2 separate regions of the Homo sapiens genome follow, and region 2 is linked to region 1. The links come from fine-mapping of genetic effects on gene expression. A gene starts in region 1. The other region holds a variant in brackets. All regions are shown on one strand. Distances are from middle to middle.

Region 1 (2,500 bases):
TAACTCAGCACTGTTACAGTATGGTATGAGGCCACCACTTCTCCTGTTGGCCTTCTTAGTTTCTCTCCAACCTCCCCTTTTCCCTAGTTTATAAGACAGGAGAAAAGGGAGAAAGCAAAAAGTTGGAAAGAAACAGAAGTAAGATAAATAGCTAGACGACCTTGGCACCACCACCTGGCCCTGGTGGCTAAAATAATAATAATATTATTAACCCCTGACCAAAACTACTGGTGTTATCTGTAAATTCTAGACATTGTATGAGAAAGCACTGTAAAACTTTTTGTTCTGTTAGCTGATGTATGTAGCCCCCAGTCACGTTTCTCACGCTTACTTGATCTATTATGACTTTTTCACGTAGACCCCTTAGAGTTGTAAGCCCTTAAAAGGGCTAGGAATTTCTTTTTCGGGGAGCTCGGCTCTTAAGACACGAGTCTGCCGACGCTCCCGGCCGAATAAAAAAACCTCTTCCTTCTTTAATCTGGTGTCTGAGGAGTTCTGTCTGCGACTCGTCCTGCTACAACAGAATGGGACAATACAATGCATGTCATGTAAAAGTAACTCCGGCCGGGCGCGGTGGCTCACGCCTGTAATCCCAGCACTTTGGGAGGCCGAGGTGGGCGGATCACGATGTCAGGAGATCGAGACCATCCTGGCTAATACGGTGAAACCCTCTCTCTACAAAAATACAAAAAATTAGCCGGGCGTGATGACGAGCGCCTGTAGTCCCAGCTACCCGGGAGGCTGAGGCAGGAGAATGGCGTGAACCCGGGAGGCGGAGCTTGCAGTGAGCCGAGATCGCGCCACTGCACTCCAGCCTGGGCGACAGAGCAAGACTCCGTCTCAAAAAAAAAAAAAAAAAAAAAGTAACTCCTATAATCTTAAGTACTAGTGTAATATAAAACTATACGCATGCTCCAGAGAAGTCATCCTGGCAACCTCTCTGGAAGGAGTTTGAAATAAACCGTATCTTTCTCAACACGCTTGTACACCCCAAGTCTAGCATAGTCACACAACAGAGAAGTTCAGTCTGGCAACACACTACAGCCGGAGACAAACTAGGTGGCCACCGTGATGGTTCAAGCCAGGAACTAGTTAATTAAAGGTTGAGGTGAGCAGGCTTGTCTGCGACATTTGCATATTTCTGACTTGCGTACTTAGAAGACGAAGGCCAGTACCCTTAAGACTGATGGTTTCCGAAAGAAACACTGTCGTCTCTAGTTGCTGTCCTCCTTCCTCCTCCCTGTCTATCCCGGAGAAAAGACCCTCAGAGAAACACCCACACTTAGTCTCTGGCCCTCGGCTCCCAGGAACGCTGCCGGAGCAACACCGCCGTCTAGGCTGGACGCTGAGAGAGGATCGTCCACGACTCACTTCAAGGCTGAACCAAGAAAACACAGTAAAGGAACTTGCCGGCGGCCGCGACGGTAGCGTCAGTTAGAAATCAGGTCTCCAGTGTTCCCAGTTCCCACCAGTCCAACTGCGAGGAGTGCGACGTGAGTCTGAGTCTGATCCCTCCGAAAACCGTACTTCCGGCGCTGTCTCGGAGGCCTCCCGTCCCCTCCCTTGTCCGTCTTCTAACTCTTCCCCACGCCAGGTCCGTCAAGCCTAAGTCCTTGAGTTCCGGGTCCGGGCAGCAGAGAAAGGAAGTCCTCTCCCTGGAGGCCTATCTCCCTCAGAACTGCGCGAGAAGCGAGACCTTAGAAGGCAGGGCTTCCCGCGAAGGACCGGAAAGGAGCGCCTACTAAGGACGCCGTCGAGGTCCGGGGCGCCTCAACTCTATAGCTCTAACTGGCTAGAAGTGCCCAACGTGGAATGTTTCTTTTTTAAAGGCGGCTCTTGAAGCGACCCGGAAGCGGAAGTGGAAGAAAGTTCTAGTGGCTTGAGGTATCCGCAGGAGCGGCCGGGTGGCGGGAGGAACCGTTACGGGAACTGAAGTTGCGGGTGAGCGCCAGCCGCGGAGCAGGGCCCTGATTGGAGGCCAGAGGGGTTGCGGGGAGAAGGGGAGGAGAGGGGTCGCAGGCGCTGTGGCGGGCCCTGGGGGAGAGCTTGGCCGCGCTGCGGGGAGGGGGCGGGGTGCAGCGCGTGGGAGCCGGGCCGCGGGAAGGGGCGGGCCGCAGCGGCGCGCGGTGGGGGCGGAGCTGGGGCGCGGCGTGAACCCCGCGGGCGGGGAGCGGGTGTGCGCAGCGCTAGGTGTGCGCTTCGCCCTGTAGGTAGAGAGACCCTTTGGTTAGCTTTCCACGCCAAGTGGCCGTTCCAGGCAGGCAGTGTCGTCTTGGTTCAGCCAAGGTCACAGAGGGAGTGATAGCTTCCGCGCAGCCCTGGCTACGGACTCTGGGCATCTTTCCACTGCCCCGCTTGCGCCACCTGTTAGGCAGGATCGTTTTTCCTCTGGGGCAAGATCAAAATCCAGGTCCTGCAGGAAGAAACTCCTCTTAAAAATAGTAGGGAAGAGTCTCCCTGGAACTGTTTTCTCCTTTCAGGATGAGGGGGATCGAGCAAG
Region 2 (3,018 bases), 31 kb before region 1:
CATGTTCTGTGTTTGTTGATTCATTCCATCCTCCCAGCAACACCCTATGAGGAAGGTTCTGTCATCTCCATCATTCCAGAGGCCACACTTTTAGCCCTACCCCACACTTCTCACCTAGGAAGAAGCCAAGAAAGCGTGTCCAGGAGAGGGAGCAAGGGAGGGAAGCTTCTGATACTACTGGGAGGCAAAGTGGGGACAGTTGCAGTGGATTCAGGACCCGGAGGACAGGGGAGTTGAAAAAGTGAGGGCTGAACCCGGGACGGAGGCCAGGCTTACTGTTGAAGGGCTGGAGAGGACGTATTTGAGGTTTAAGGGCATATGGTCTCTGTTAGGCACCTTGAATGCTGTGCTGTTATAGGGAAAACAGCCAAGACAGTCTGTAAGTGAGTGGGCGTGGCTGGGTTCCAGTAATACTTTATTTCTAAGAACAGGTGTTGGGACATAGTTTGCCCGGCTAAAAAGGAACAGAGAAATGGAGCAATAGGCTGACAGGGCTGTTTTATGACTGAAATGAACATAAGGGTTTCTAGCCCCGTGGATCTCAGCCTGCCTGCACATTAGACTCACCTAGGAGGTTGTTTTTGTTGTTGTTTTAAGAAACAAGGTCTCGCTCGGTTGCCCAGGCTGGAGTGCAGTAGTGCAATCATAGTTCACTGCAGCCTTGAACTCCTGGGCTCAAGGGATCCTCCTGCCTCAGGCTCTCAAGTAGCTGAGACTACAGGCGTGCGCCTGTGGGTCTCAGTGTGTTGCCCGGGCTGGTCTCAAATTCCTGAGCTCAAACGATCCTCTCGCCTCCACCTCCCAAAGTGCTGGGGTTACAGGCATGAGCCACCAGGCCTGGTGTAGCCTAGAAAGTTTTTGTTGTTGTTTGAGACGGAGTCTCGCTCTGTCACCAGGCTGGAGTGCAGTGGCGCGATCTCGGCTCACTGCAACCTCCATGTCCCGGGCTCAAGCAATTCTCCTGCCTCAGCCTCCTGAGTAGCTGGAACTACAGGTGCATGCCACCACGCCCAGCTGATTTTTGTATTTTTTAGAAGAAACAGGGTTTCACCGTGTTGGTCAGGCTGGTCTCAAACTCCTCACCTTGTGATCCACCCTCCTCAGCCTCCCAAAGTGCTGGAATTAGAGGCATGAACCACCACACCCGGCCACCTAGAAGGTTTTTTAAACATATGAGCCACACCCCACACACTGTGCAGGCAAAAAAGTGGAAAGCCTATCACAGTGAACACCTTTGTCCTCTAGAGTCAGTAATTATAAACATTGTTACAGTTCTTTTCTTTCTCTTCTTTTTTTCCTGACCACTGGGAGTTGCAGATATCATGACACTGCATCCTTAACGACTTCAGTAGGCATCTGGCGAAATCAGGGCCTTCTCCCGCATAGCCACACTGCCCTAACAAGCCCATAAATGCTGTAAAACAGCAGCTCGCATGCCAACATTTTCCAGTTATCCCCCAAAATGTCTTTTTAGTTTTTTGTTGTAAGCAGCATCCAATCAAGTTTCCCACCCGCAAAGGAGCCTTTTCTGACTACCGGAGATTCTAGAGTATGTGGGAGACACATTTATGACGGAAGAAGAAAAAGATCTCGGCAGGCGGTGCTGGGGCCTAGAGTGCAAGTGGAGGGTGGGCTTGAGTGAAGCCAGCTCGTGTCATCATTTATTTCAGGAGGGAAGGTGGGGAGGGCACAGCAGCTGTGGGTGACCTTGTTTAGGGGAAGTCAAGGCAGCCCATGGCCGATTGTTCTGGT[GT/G]TTTTCCAGTGAAGAGGTGGCAGAGGTGGTGGTGCAAAGAGATGGGAGATGCTGTTCTGGAGAGTGGAGAGCAGATACACCCTGGGAGAAGAGCAGGCCTGCCAGTGGCAGTGTGGATGGTGGGATTCATGAGCTGAGGAGGGGGATGGTGGAATTCATGAGCTGCTGAGGGAGGGGGATGGTGGGATTCATGAGCTGAGGAGGGGGATGGTGGGATTCATGAGCTGAGGAGGGGGATGGTGGGATTCATGAGCTGCTGAGGAGGGGGATGGTGGGATTCAGGAGCTGAGGAGGGGGATGGTGGGATTCATGAGCTGAGGAGGGGGATGGTGGGATTCATGAGCTGAGGAGGGGGATGGTGGGATTCATGAGCTGCTGAGGAGGGGGATGGTGGGATTCATGAGGTGCTGAGGAGGGGGGTGGTGGGATTCAGGAGCTGAGGAGGGGGATGGTGGGATTCATGAGCTGAGGAGGGGGATGGTGGGATTCATGAGCTGCTGAGGAGGGGGATGGGATTCATGAGCTGCTGAGGAGGGGGATGGTGGGATTCAGAAGCTGAGGAGGGGGATGGTGGGATTCATGAGCTGCTGAGGAGGGGGATGGTGGGATTCATGAGCTGAGGAGGGGGATGGTGGGATTCATGAGCTGAGGAGGGGGATGGTGGGATTCATGAGCTGCTGAGGAGGGGGATGGTGGGATTCAGGAGCTGCTGAGGAGGGGGATGGTGGGATTCATGAGCTGAGGAGGGGGATGGTGGGATTCATGAGCTGCTGAGGAGGGGGATGGTGGGATTCATGAGCTGCTGAGGAGGGGGATGGTGGGATTCATGAGCTGCTGAGGAGGGGGATGGTGGGATTCATGAGCTGAGGAGGGGGATGGTGGGATTCATGAGCTGAGGAGGGGGATGGTGGGATTCATGAGCTGAGGAGGGGGATGGTGGGATTCATGAGCTGCTGAAGAGGGGGATGGTGGGATTCAGGAGCTGCTGAGGAGGGGGATGGTGGGATTCAGGAGCTGAGGAGGGGGATGGTGGGATTAATGCCCTGAAGCAGTGGATGGTGGGATTGAGGATTGGGTTTTCTAGGGAGGAGGGACAAGGCAGTTAAGGGTTTCACAAAGGAGAGGTTCTGTTGATTTCCCCCTGAGTCTAAACTGGGTAATGAGGGACATAACAGAGAATGATGGGTGTGAGGACAGGGCCTGGAGTCGTGATGTGGTTGAAGAATTACTGGATTGAAGTTAATACAGTCAATGAGCTAGAAAGA

Alleles and levels. Positions count from the first base shown, and alleles are read on the strand shown. Sizes are in standard deviations (SD) of each study's normalised expression.
In carriers of allele GT in region 2, the expression in esophagus mucosa of the gene that starts at base 1,528 in region 1 tends to be lower than with G alone (small effect, 0.31 SD a copy in GTEx).

The links. PIP is the estimated chance that this variant, and not a neighbour inherited with it, causes the effect.
Region 2: its variant is the best candidate, but not a certain one, in a credible set for the expression of EIF1AD in esophagus mucosa (GTEx, PIP 0.85).

The regions. Positions count from the first base shown.
Region 1 is chr11:66,000,630-66,003,129 of GRCh38, forward strand. It overlaps EIF1AD (eukaryotic translation initiation factor 1A domain containing), which reads right to left and starts at 1,528. Exons shown (of 6, transcript NM_001242481.2): 1 at 1,281-1,528. It overlaps BANF1 (barrier to autointegration nuclear assembly factor 1), which reads left to right and starts at 1,874. Exons shown (of 3, transcript NM_003860.4): 1 at 1,874-1,941. RefSeq lists enhancers at 1-124, 1,226-1,595 and a silencer at 1,896-2,235.
Region 2 is chr11:65,968,872-65,971,889 of GRCh38, forward strand. The region is part of intron 12 of SART1 (spliceosome associated factor 1, recruiter of U4/U6.U5 tri-snRNP); the gene reads left to right. Among named protein-coding and RNA genes, the nearest start is that of SART1, 8.6 kb to the left of the region's middle. The variant GT/G (reference allele first, on the strand shown) is at 1,753.